2 separate regions of the Homo sapiens genome follow, and region 1 is linked to region 2. The links come from fine-mapping of genetic effects on gene expression. A gene starts in region 2. The other region holds a variant in brackets. All regions are shown on one strand. Distances are from middle to middle.

Region 1 (5,371 bases), 23 kb before region 2:
CGGTTCCCAACCCAGCTGTCACCCCTCACTACTGCCTTTGTGCTCTCAGAACCCCAATTTTGTTCAGGTTTCTGGAAGCCAACACTTCAAAGAAGACAGGCTGGCTGGGCATGGTGGCTCACACCTGTAATCCCAGCACTTTGGGAGGCCAAAGTGGGAGGACTGCTTGAGCCCAGGAGTTTCAGACCAACCTGGGAAACATAGCAAGACCCTGTCTCTACAAAAAATAAAAATAAAAATTTATAGCCAGACATGGTGGGTGTGCCTGTAGTCCCAGCTATTCAGGAGGCCGAGGTGAGAGGAGCCCTTGGGCCTGAGACATCAAGGCTACAGAGAGTCATGATCACGCCACTGCACTCCAGCCTGGGTGACAGAGGAAGACCCTGTCTAAAAAAAAAAAAAAAATTTAATTTAAAAAAGAAGGAGACGAAGAAGGAGAAGGAGAAGAAGAAGAAGACAAGTCCCTCCCAGCCTAGGGATGACTCTAAGTTAATCATGGTAATCCTAGCCGTTGGTCTATTCTGGTTAGGACAGCCCCGCCCTAACCACAGCCTAAGGAAAGGCTCATAGGAGACAGCTGGGGAAGTTTTCCTCATCCTTAGGCTCAACCCTTCCTGCCTTCACACACTGTTGTGTGAGGACATGATGCTTGGAACTGCTGCTGCCATCTGTGAGCATGAGGCAAAAAGCCAAGCAAGTCCTAAGAACAGACTTCTTCAAGCCCTAACATCATTGGCTATGGCAGACCCACTACAAAAAATGCTTCCAATGCTCCACCTGCCCTTGGCAATGTGACCTTGAAGCTCCTCCCACGAAGAGGCAGAGTCTATTTCCTCATTACTGAGTCTTAGTCAACAGCACTGCAGCAGAAGTGACTGCACCAACTCCAAATCTCGTCTCAAGAGGGATACTCCAGGCTGCCCTGCTAGAGACATGGGAGCAACATGGGCAGGATACTGAGGCTCCCTGGCCAACAGCCACACAACCCCCAGCAGCACCACCTGATCAACCTAGAGATGACCACAGATGCATGAGGGATCACAGATGCATGAGGAAGCACAGGTGAGACCAGAAGAGCTGCCCAGCTGAGCCCAGCCAAAATTGCTGACCTGCTTGAATTGGGAGCTATAAAGTAATGGTGGTGTTTCAAACTTTTCGGTTTTTAATTGGTTAGCTATGTCACAATAGCTAACTGATGCATTACGAATCCTGAAGCTGTCCTTCCTCAAGACTCCATTTCATATGAGATAAAAAATATTCTCTTTTTTTAATGCCACTGTTACATGCAGCCTATAGTTCCCTGATATTGTGCTCTGAGGAATAAAAACGATGAGACAGGGCCCTGCCTTCAAGAAAATGGCAGCCCAACTACACTTAAGACGTATTTTCAACTAGGTTGTTGACCCCCCTGAGGTGAGGGTTTGGTGGCACATGTATCTCTAGAAAGGACTCTTACAGTCTAAAAATGTACAGCAACACAAGGTAACCTCTGCTGAGTGCAAAAGGAGTGGTCCAGTCCACATAAAGACTTCATGAAGAGCTGGATATGAGCTAGGTGGTCTTTGAAGGAGATTTAGGATTTCGAGTCATGAGGAGAGAGGGAGGGTTGAGAGAGGCAGGACCCTCTCTGGGTCTAGAAAGATGGATATTCCATAGGGATTTGTTCTGGAGACAGGTGAGTGACTAGGAATTGAATTCTGATGTGGTGATTTAGGGCATGAAGCACATAACAAGGACAAAACAGTGTCTCAATGCAGGCCTGCAAATGTTCATTCTATGAGGTGAAGAATGAACAGAGGGGCCAGAGGTACAAGCCAATGTCCTCTGCAGCCACCCTCAAAAGAGTATCAAAAAGCGTATTGTCTCAGGAGTATCAGGCCACCGCCCCATAACCTCAGATGTGACCAGGCCTGAAGGATCTCCTTCTACCTGTGCGTCCCTGCACCTCTCACTTTATCTTACCCAGTGGGCGCACTGCCGCTGGGGTGGGGTCACAGAGGAGGCCTTGAATCAATGCTGGGTTGTAGGTTGAACAAACTTCACAAGACTAGAAAATAAGTAATAGAGAGGTACTTGTTTTTTTCACATTGCCAGAGTCTCACATTTCCCTCTCTGTCTGAGTTTTCCCAAGCCCACAAGGGATGGTCGTGGGCTGACTGATGACACCCAGGCTCTCGGGGTCTGAAGAAAAGCAAAAGAAAGGCCCCTGTTCTCTGGTCCCAACCACAAACATGAGGGCACTAAATAATTCCACAACTACACCATCTTCAGAATCAGAGCACTAGGAAGGAGAGAGCTATTACTCATTTTGACCAGGAAGCCTTGTTTTATTTAGCAATGAGTATTTGCTAAGCGTATCTTCTACTCAATAGAACACCCTCACCATGTTTCTGTGAGACCAGAGTGATCCCCATTTTATACTGGAGGAACACAAGGTGTATGAGAAATGTGCCCAAGATCTCAATACTAGTGACTCGGAGAGCCAGGGTTTGAGCCCAGATCAGTCTGATACTGAGACCTGTGCTCTCTCTGTATATAGTATGCAAGAACTATCATTTCTTCAAAGTCTGAGCTGAATGGAAGCTCTCATAAGAGATTATTTTCAGAAGCTCCGTGTCTTAGCCAAGGGAGTAAGTGAATTAACACACTGGACTCCAAAATCCAGCTCTGTTATAAAGTAGTCATAGTAGCCACGTGGCCTTGGGCCAATCAAGTCATCACTCAGGACCCCAATTCTTTTTGGCATTTACAAAAGGAGAAAGCGGAGCTGGAGGATGGATCCGACCCCTTCCAGCTCCCATGGCTGGGAGGTTTTCCATCTCTCCCATAGAGAGGCTAGCCCAGACTGAACCAGAACGTTTTTTTCCTGACTAACGGTTTCTAGGAAAGAGGCTCATGCTGGCTGGCTCTCAGGCTCAACCCTGGTCCAATCCACTGTCAGCAGGACGGGGTCAAGCAGGTACTAACTTGGCTGGCTGCTTGTGGGTGATAACGAGTTATTGTGAAGGACTCTTGGGCCCTCTGATAGCTGCCTGACAATGCCCAACCA[G/C]AACAGTAAAGATCCACCAAGCCAGCCGCTCCGGGCCACATGCAACTTCAAGGACCACTTTGTGCATCTGCACCAAGGCTCCCTCTGTTTTGAGAAAGGAGAGCTCGTCGGTCCCATATTCCTCCGCAGTCCTTGCAAATCCTCTCACCTGGCAGGAAAGCCACTTAGGGTTGTTGTATAAGAGGAGGAGGCACAGCGGAGACCAGCTTTGTTGGCAGAGAGCTTACCTTTCCTGAAAGTCAGCGCTGAAAGATCAAAAGTCACTGAGGACCCTGCTGACTCCCCCACACCAACTCACAAAACCAACAACCCGTGGTGGGCAGGGCCTGAGAGAGGAAAGTGAACGATATCCTGCAAAAGTCTGCTAGGGGGTGGCTTCGTCTCAGTTGCAAGGCTGCTGAATAGGTAGGTAGGTAAAGGCCATGGGGAGAATCAGCATTTGGAACTCTTCCCTGGGTGCAGCGCCCCTGCCCGCATTGCCTGCAAGGCAAACCCCGCCTTCTCCCGCAGCCTCCCACTCCGCCCAAGCAGCCCAGGGACAGAGGCTGCAGGATTCTGACACAGGAAGTCTACAGTCACTGGGAGCCTCTCCAAGATACAGCCTGTGTGAAGGAAAAGGTCTGGACAAGGAGAGGAACAGTAAAGAGAAACAAAAGTCCTCGGTTTGAATGAGGAGAGATTTTGAGCCCGCAGCGGGTTGCGGGGTGGAGGATGGCGGAAGGGGCAGATGCCGTTACCGGGTTCTGTTTCTCTTTCGCTGGCCACCTTGTTAAGCTCCCATTGGCCAGGTGTCCGGAGTGGGACTCACCACTGCAGGGGGCTCCAGCCCCACACAGCCGCCTCCCAGGAAGGACTCAGGTGGGCTTTCAGGTTATCCGCGGTGGGATGCAGGGGTGAAGGAAGCTTTGGTGGTGGATGTGAGAATTTGGGATGGGGGTGTGGAACTTTACTGGCTCCTGCCATGCAGCGTGCACAGTGCTTTCTGCAGGATGGCATCGAAGGGGCTGGAGCTGGGGGGCAGCACGTCTCTGTCCTCAGACCACGGTGGAGGATGTGGACTGTCCAGGCTCCAAGCTGTCCATCCCTCAGTGCCATGACCTAACCGTTAAGTGGGATGGAGCATGGGAGGGGAACGCAACTGCACCTTTCAGAGAGAGGCCCTCTGAGCAGGAAGAGTGGCTGCAGTAGAAAAGATGTGGCTGAGAAGGGGAAGAAAGAGCCTCGCGAGCATCAGCACTAGGAGAGGCAATTGATTTCATCCTGTGAGTCTCAGGGGAGTGGAGGCTGCCCCTTCCAAAAGAACTGGCAGGACTGGCCATGAGCCAAGTAGGGAACAGCTGCTGCTGACTGAGGGAGAAGCTGTGCAGCCTCGGGCAATTCAGTCAACCTCTCTCGGCCAAGGACAATATAATAATGCCTGCTTTACTGACCTTAGTGAATTGTTACGATGTTCAATGGTGAAAGAGAGTTGTAAAATGTGAAGTGCAATTAAATGTATAGGTGCGATATTATCAGCAGAACTTCTTGGGCTGGAGGTACCCAACTATGGCTGCACACAAGAACCTCTAGAGACTTTTTTTTTTTTAAATCCTGAACTTGGAAACCACCCTAGATCAGTTATTCAAATTAGGGCAGGCAGTGAGCAGAAGGACAGGAAGTGGTACTTTTTTCAAAAGAATCTGGTGATGCTGATATCCTATGAAGGTTGAGACCTGCTACCTAAGACTTCCCCAAAATCCATGAAGGTGATCACTCAGAGCACATGTTTTTTAAAAAGGCATATTCTCAGGCTTCTCCCAGATCTTCTGAATCAAAATTTCAAGGGGTCCTGGCAACCTCTATATTTAGCGAGCAATAAGAGCAATGTGGACACGTTATGCCAGTGAAAAGTTTGTCGATTAGCTCCTTTTCTACTGGATAATCATATCCAGCAATGCTTCTGGACAGCACAGGCAAATCAGCTCAAGGAGGGGAAGCACCCTCCTCAGACGGTAAGTACAGACATGCTTTGGGGGGATGGGGTTACAGTAGACAGCCAAATCCCATCCTATTCCTGCTCCACCGGGGTGAAACTCCAATTATAAAATGACACATTTCCCAGCCAACGTGCCTGGGAACCTTAAGATAAAAAGGAAACGATGATGAGTTATCTATAACTAACAGCATCAATTATGAGTGCTTTATTGTGTCAATAGATTGTTCAGGCTTTCTTGCTTCACACACTGCGGACTCTGTTCCATTCATAAAATTATACAAACACTTGCATATCCATGCACATGCACTCACAAACACAGAGACCCCAAGCTCGTCAAACACACAAAT
Region 2 (5,371 bases):
GTCAGTTGCCCTCAGGTCCGGCGCAGGCTGCCCACAAGTGACGTGGGTATACTGGCCTTGCTCCTCCTGCTCCGTCTCCCGGTGGTAGAAGTAGTTGAAGTTGGAGACGATGACGGGCACAGGCAGGGCAATGGTGAGGACCCCAGCGATGGCACACAGCGAGCCCACGATCTTTCCCCCCACAGTCATGGGGTACATGTCCCCGTAACCTACCGTGGTCATTGTAACCACTGCCCACCAGAAGGCATCCGGGATGCTGGGAAAAAGCGAATCGTCATCGTCAGCCTCTGCGAAGTAGACGGCACTGGAGAAGAGGATGACCCCGATGAAGAGGAAGAAGATGAGCAGCCCCAGCTCCCTCATGGAGGCCTGCAAGGTCTTGCCCAGGATCTGCAGCCCCTTGGAGTGGCGGGAGAGCTTGAAGATGCGGAACACCCGGACCAGGCGGATGACTCGGAGGATGGCCAGGGACATGGCCTGCTGCCCATTCTGGCCGCCTCCTCCACTGGCTGGTTGCTGCTCCTGCTGCTGCACCAGCTCAGTGCCCAGGGTGATGAAGTAGGGGAAGATAGCCACCAAGTCAATGATGTTCATGATGTTCCGGAAGAAGGCCGGCTTGCTAGGGCAGGCGGAGAAGCGCACCAGGAGCTCAAAAGTGAACCAGACAATGCACAGCGTCTCCACCAGAAAGAAGGGGTCTGTAAAGAAGGAGCCCCCAAGAGTACTGAGTGAGGAGGAGCCCCCGGTCCCCATTTCCCCAGGGGTGATGCCATGATGAAATGTGTAGGAATCGTCTTCATCCTCCTCTTCCTCCTGACTCCCCCTGGAAACTGGGGAGACTCGACTCACACCACCATTGTTTCCACCTCGACCATCTACACGGAACTGGGGTAAGGTCTCCAGGCAAAAGATGACTATGGAGATGAGAATGACCAACACGGAGACGATGGCGATGCCCCTGGCCGGCCCAGAGCTCTCTGGGTACTCAAAGAGCAGCCACACCTGGCGCTGGAAGGGCTGGGAGGGCAGCGGCTTCTCGTCCTCGCCACCTTCGGGCAGGCAGCCCTCGTCCTCCCGGAAGGCCGCCAGGGCCTCGTCCCCCAGCTGGTAGAAGCGGATCTCCTCCAGGAAAATGTCCAGGGGCACGTTGACCGGCCTCCGCAGGCGGCCCCCAGACTGGTAGTAGTAGAGGATGGCGTCGAAGCTGGGCCGGTTGCGGTCGAAGAAGTACTCGTTCCTCAGGGGGTCGAAGAAGCGGACTCGCCGGCCAGGGTCTCCGAGCAGCGTGTCCGGAAACAGCGACAGGGTGCGCAATTGTGTCTCAAAGCGCAGCCCGGAGATATTGATCACCAGCCGCTCGCTACTACAGCAGCCCCCGCCCCCGCCGGCCTCCGGGAAGTCTCCCGCATCCTGTTGCTCTCCCTCCGGCCCACGGACCTCCCCCGGCGCCGCCAGCGTAAGGGATTTCTCCGATCTCATGCCCCCTCGGAGGTGCGCTCCCCGCCACTAGGACGGCGCCCACGACACAATCTCTGGAGCGCGGCACCCGCTCCCCAGCTCCCGGCTGCGCCCTCTTTAGGGTGGGGCCCGCGCTCCTCCCGGTTCGCGGTCTGACCTGGCCGTTGGGTCCGTGAGCCCTAAAGCCCTGGTCCCTGCAAGGCTGGGTCTGGGGAGGTGACCTGGGCGCTGGGGATTTGGTTCTGCGCTTCCCGTTACCCGCGCCCGGGTGCTAGAGCTTACTGGGATGCCCGGAACCGCACACAGGCGCGTGTGAAATTGGCTGCCCGAAAAGACGCGTGGCTTCGCCCCCAGCGGTGCCTGAGACCCGGCTCCCGGACGCAGAGGTCCGCCCTCCAGCCGGGCTAGCTCTTCCCAGTTCCCACTGCGCTCCTCCAGCCGCTCCGGACCCCCGGCTGCCGCTGGTACCGAAGCGCCAGATGCGCCTCCCTCCGGCTCGGCAAAGACTCCTGGCGGGGCTCGGCCTCCGCCCTGCGTCCACCGCGGGGCTGGGTCCGGCCAAGGTCGCGGTTCCGGCCGCCACAGCCGCCACCTCCTCCCTAGGAGCCGCGCCGCAGGCCTCGCAGAGGGCCCGGGGCTGCCCCGGCGCCCGAGCGCGGGGACCCACCTCCCCACGGCTCAAGGCTTCGCTGCCGCCGCCGCAGCTGCAGCGGCTCGGCTCTCCGCTCTGCCCTTCCTTCCCAACACACACTCTCCAAGTGACGTGGCAGGCCCCGCCTGCTGCCCCCTCCCACCCCACTCCCACATCACACCCCTCGCCCAGCCAGGGGCTGCCGCGAGCCAGGGCGCCATGGAAATAGACGCACACTTGCCTCACCAGTAAGCTTTCCCGCGCTCTCCTGGCACGCCTCTCGCTTTCACACGTTCACATTCGCGCCCCCCTCCACAAGCGCCGGCACCCTAATACCACACCCCCTCCACCCCCGCAGTCGGCTCTTCTCATTTCAATTTACCGAGTTGACCTGCGCAGTGTATTTCATCAATAAGAAGACACACCCCGCCCCACCACACAATACGGAGCACTGTGCATCCACTCATACAGAAATCTAAAGAAAACATTAAATCATACATTCTTCTGTCTTCAGGAAGACCCGTTTGCCAACCTCTCCAATATCTACAGGAAAAAAAAAATAGAGAAAGTATTTTTGAGATGCCTTGAGAGCTTCCGATTTAAATTCCAATATAATTCTCCGTCTACCTTTGCAAGCCTGGGAGGGCGGGGCTGCAACTCTCCCAGAATTGCAAAGGGATGGTAGAGAAAGGGTGGCAAGTCAATCAATGCCTTTCCCATCAGAAGATTTCCAGGGGAGTCCTGAGAGCCTGAGGCAACAACCCCAGTGAGGAAGGACCCAGAAGATGGAAGCACCTCAGAGATACCTCAGCCCAGGGCACAGTGCACCCTGGGGATCCTTTGCTCCCAACCACCCCGAAGGATGCATCTGGAATTTCTGCTTATTGGGTGACCAAAAAAAGGGAGAAGAGGGTGAGTGGAAAAGGGGTATGTAAGAGTGTTGATTGAAAAAATAATAGCTACATTTACTGGGCATTGAATATGTGCCAGCCACATTCTAGGTGCTTTCCCAGAAAGATGTCCTCTCCTTGTAGGCCATGTTACAACAAAGACCCCTTTGGCAGTACTGGAGTAGGGCAAAGTTTGTTGTTAGGGACCAGCTGACTCTTCCCTAACTCTCCAGCAAGAAGGTGATAAGAATGGTTTTCCATCCATTTCTGTCTTTCTTCACGAGACCAGACAAGTTGGGGTCTGGTAGAGGAAGACTCAACTGATCTTTTCAGACTGACACTTCCAGGTAGGGTTGACATTTGCTTCTCTGTGCCTCAGTTTCCTCTTTTCTGGCTGGCTGTAGCCAAAATGAATTGGCTAACAACTACAAAGTGTTTTTGTGTAGCTTCTGGTGCATATTAGATCATTAGTATGCATTCATTGAGGTTAATGATGAGAATGACACATAAAGGTGCTCTCAAACCACAGGATGCATCTGAGAGTTCTTTGTATTGCACGGAGTATTTTAAAACCACAGTGGTTCTCAGCAGCATTCACTCTCAGAGAGTTGGAGGAAGGAGAGAACCAAGGCTCCTGGATGTGTCGGGAAGGGATCAGGTGTTGAGTGGGTAAGAAATGTGCTAGTATTAGAACTCACTGCATGCTCATTCTCCAGTCTTGCTCCTCACCAGTTGAGCCAGGCAACAGCCTCTGCTCCCTTTCTGTGCTTGCACAGCTGATTTCTGGCACCAACGCCCTGTGGGCTTTTTTGATCCCCCAGGATAGAAATCAAAAGAGATCACAGCATACAGTAGCAAAGAGAAAGATTTTATGAAAGCTTATGGACATAAGGGACCAAACACCAAGAAAGGAAGTGGGTTGCTCTCCAAAGTCAAGGTGTGGGTTCCCTTTGTGGAGGTCTGCAGTAAGGGGAAGTCAGGGCATGTAGAGGTGAGGTTTTTCGGGCACATGTACGGTGGCTTAAGATGCTGCTTCATACAACATATGTCTCATTAGCATCTTAAATCTCCACCTGTGGGCATGATTTTTAGTACTAAAATAAGGAAAAGTTCATGATGAGGTGAAAGTTAAGCCTAGCTAGGCACGTAGGGCCTCAGAAAGGTCCTTAGTTCTCTAAAGCAAGGGGTTAATTAATTTGTGGTTAATAGCTTCTTGGGCCTTTGATGCTGACTGGCTGGGAGTTACAGCTTGAGTAAAGGGCTTTTGTTCTTTTTTCTCCAAACCACATCACAACAGGAAAGCAGCCAGCTTGCCCATCTCATGCTTGCCTGTCTCATTTCCACTCCTTTCTCTCACCTTGCATGTTTCCGTGAAGGGAGAGAAAGCAAGTACATGGAGTCATCCAGCGGAGTTTTCTCACTTACAGACTATGTAATTAAGCCATTTAGACTCCACACAAAAGTTGCTCTGTTTAAAAAATCTTTTTGAAAGAAAAGAAAAAAAAGGAAACCAACAGCAAATACACTATAGAAGATACTCTTTACCCCCATCCAGTTATCTGTCACTTTACCCTTATCCAGTTATCTGTCATTATTTTCTGAGTCATAAATTGACTAACCCCTGATTCTTTTTGTTTTTGTTTTCAAATTCATAATGAATGATTCATTTGCAGGTTTGTTTTCATCATTGCCATTTTTATTCACGAGACTGTCAACTAGGTCAGTAATTCTTCAAAACCAATCCTGGCAAAGCATGGGAAGGAACCTTCGTTCTGCAGAAGCGTACACACCCTGATAAGGTGTCAAGAACCTCCGTTTGAGTACCCCTCGGGTTAAGCCTGACTGGGCTGCCGGCCACCCTTCAGGCAGAGCTGATGTTCTGTGATGACCTTCACATCAAGCATGAGGTCGTGCCCCAAGAAGGGTTTCACTGTGCCCAGGGAGGTTCCCCTGAGAAGGACAAGCCATTGGCAAATTCATGAATCAGAGTTCTGTTTTTAGTTCTTTTGTGAAATAGACTCATTTCTTAGCTTAAGAAAAACCCTATGCCTAGATCATTCCCCCCAAGCGTATGTTAAGGATGAGTACAATCACACCTTCAGAAATGCCAGTTCCCAGGTGAAGGAAGACACAGCTCCATCCATAAACACTGCCAAGTGGCTTCCAATGGCAGGGGATTTTTCCCCAGCATTCACCAAGCACCAATTTCATGCCAGCACAGATTTTGTTGTTATTTTTTGTTGTTGTATCCAGATTCAGATGTTTGCCATGGTCATAGCAATCATTCATTTATTTAAAAAGTATATATTGAGCAGCTACTGAGTGCCAGCATGGTGCCAGGTGCTGAGGATTTAGCAGTGATCTATACAAAATATCTGCTTTGATAAGCATA

Evidence for each region. PIP is the estimated chance that this variant, and not a neighbour inherited with it, causes the effect.
Region 1: its variant is fine-mapped to the expression of KCNA6 in whole blood (INTERVAL, PIP 0.97).

What each region holds. Positions count from the first base shown.
Region 1 is chr12:4,828,966-4,834,336 of GRCh38, reverse strand. It overlaps KCNA6-AS1 (KCNA6 antisense RNA 1), which reads left to right and starts at 3,566. Exons shown (of 3, transcript NR_199077.1): 1 at 3,566-3,907. It also overlaps a transcript of KCNA6 not described here. RefSeq lists enhancers at 3,587-4,088, 4,518-4,677, 4,738-4,927. The variant G/C (reference allele first, on the strand shown) is at 3,050.
Region 2 is chr12:4,806,150-4,811,520 of GRCh38, reverse strand. KCNA6 (potassium voltage-gated channel subfamily A member 6) reads right to left here and starts at 2,187. Exons shown (of 1, transcript NM_002235.5): 1 at 1-2,187. The coding sequence starts at 1,479. It overlaps KCNA6-AS1 (KCNA6 antisense RNA 1), which reads left to right. Exons shown (of 3, transcript NR_199077.1): 3 at 4,653-5,371.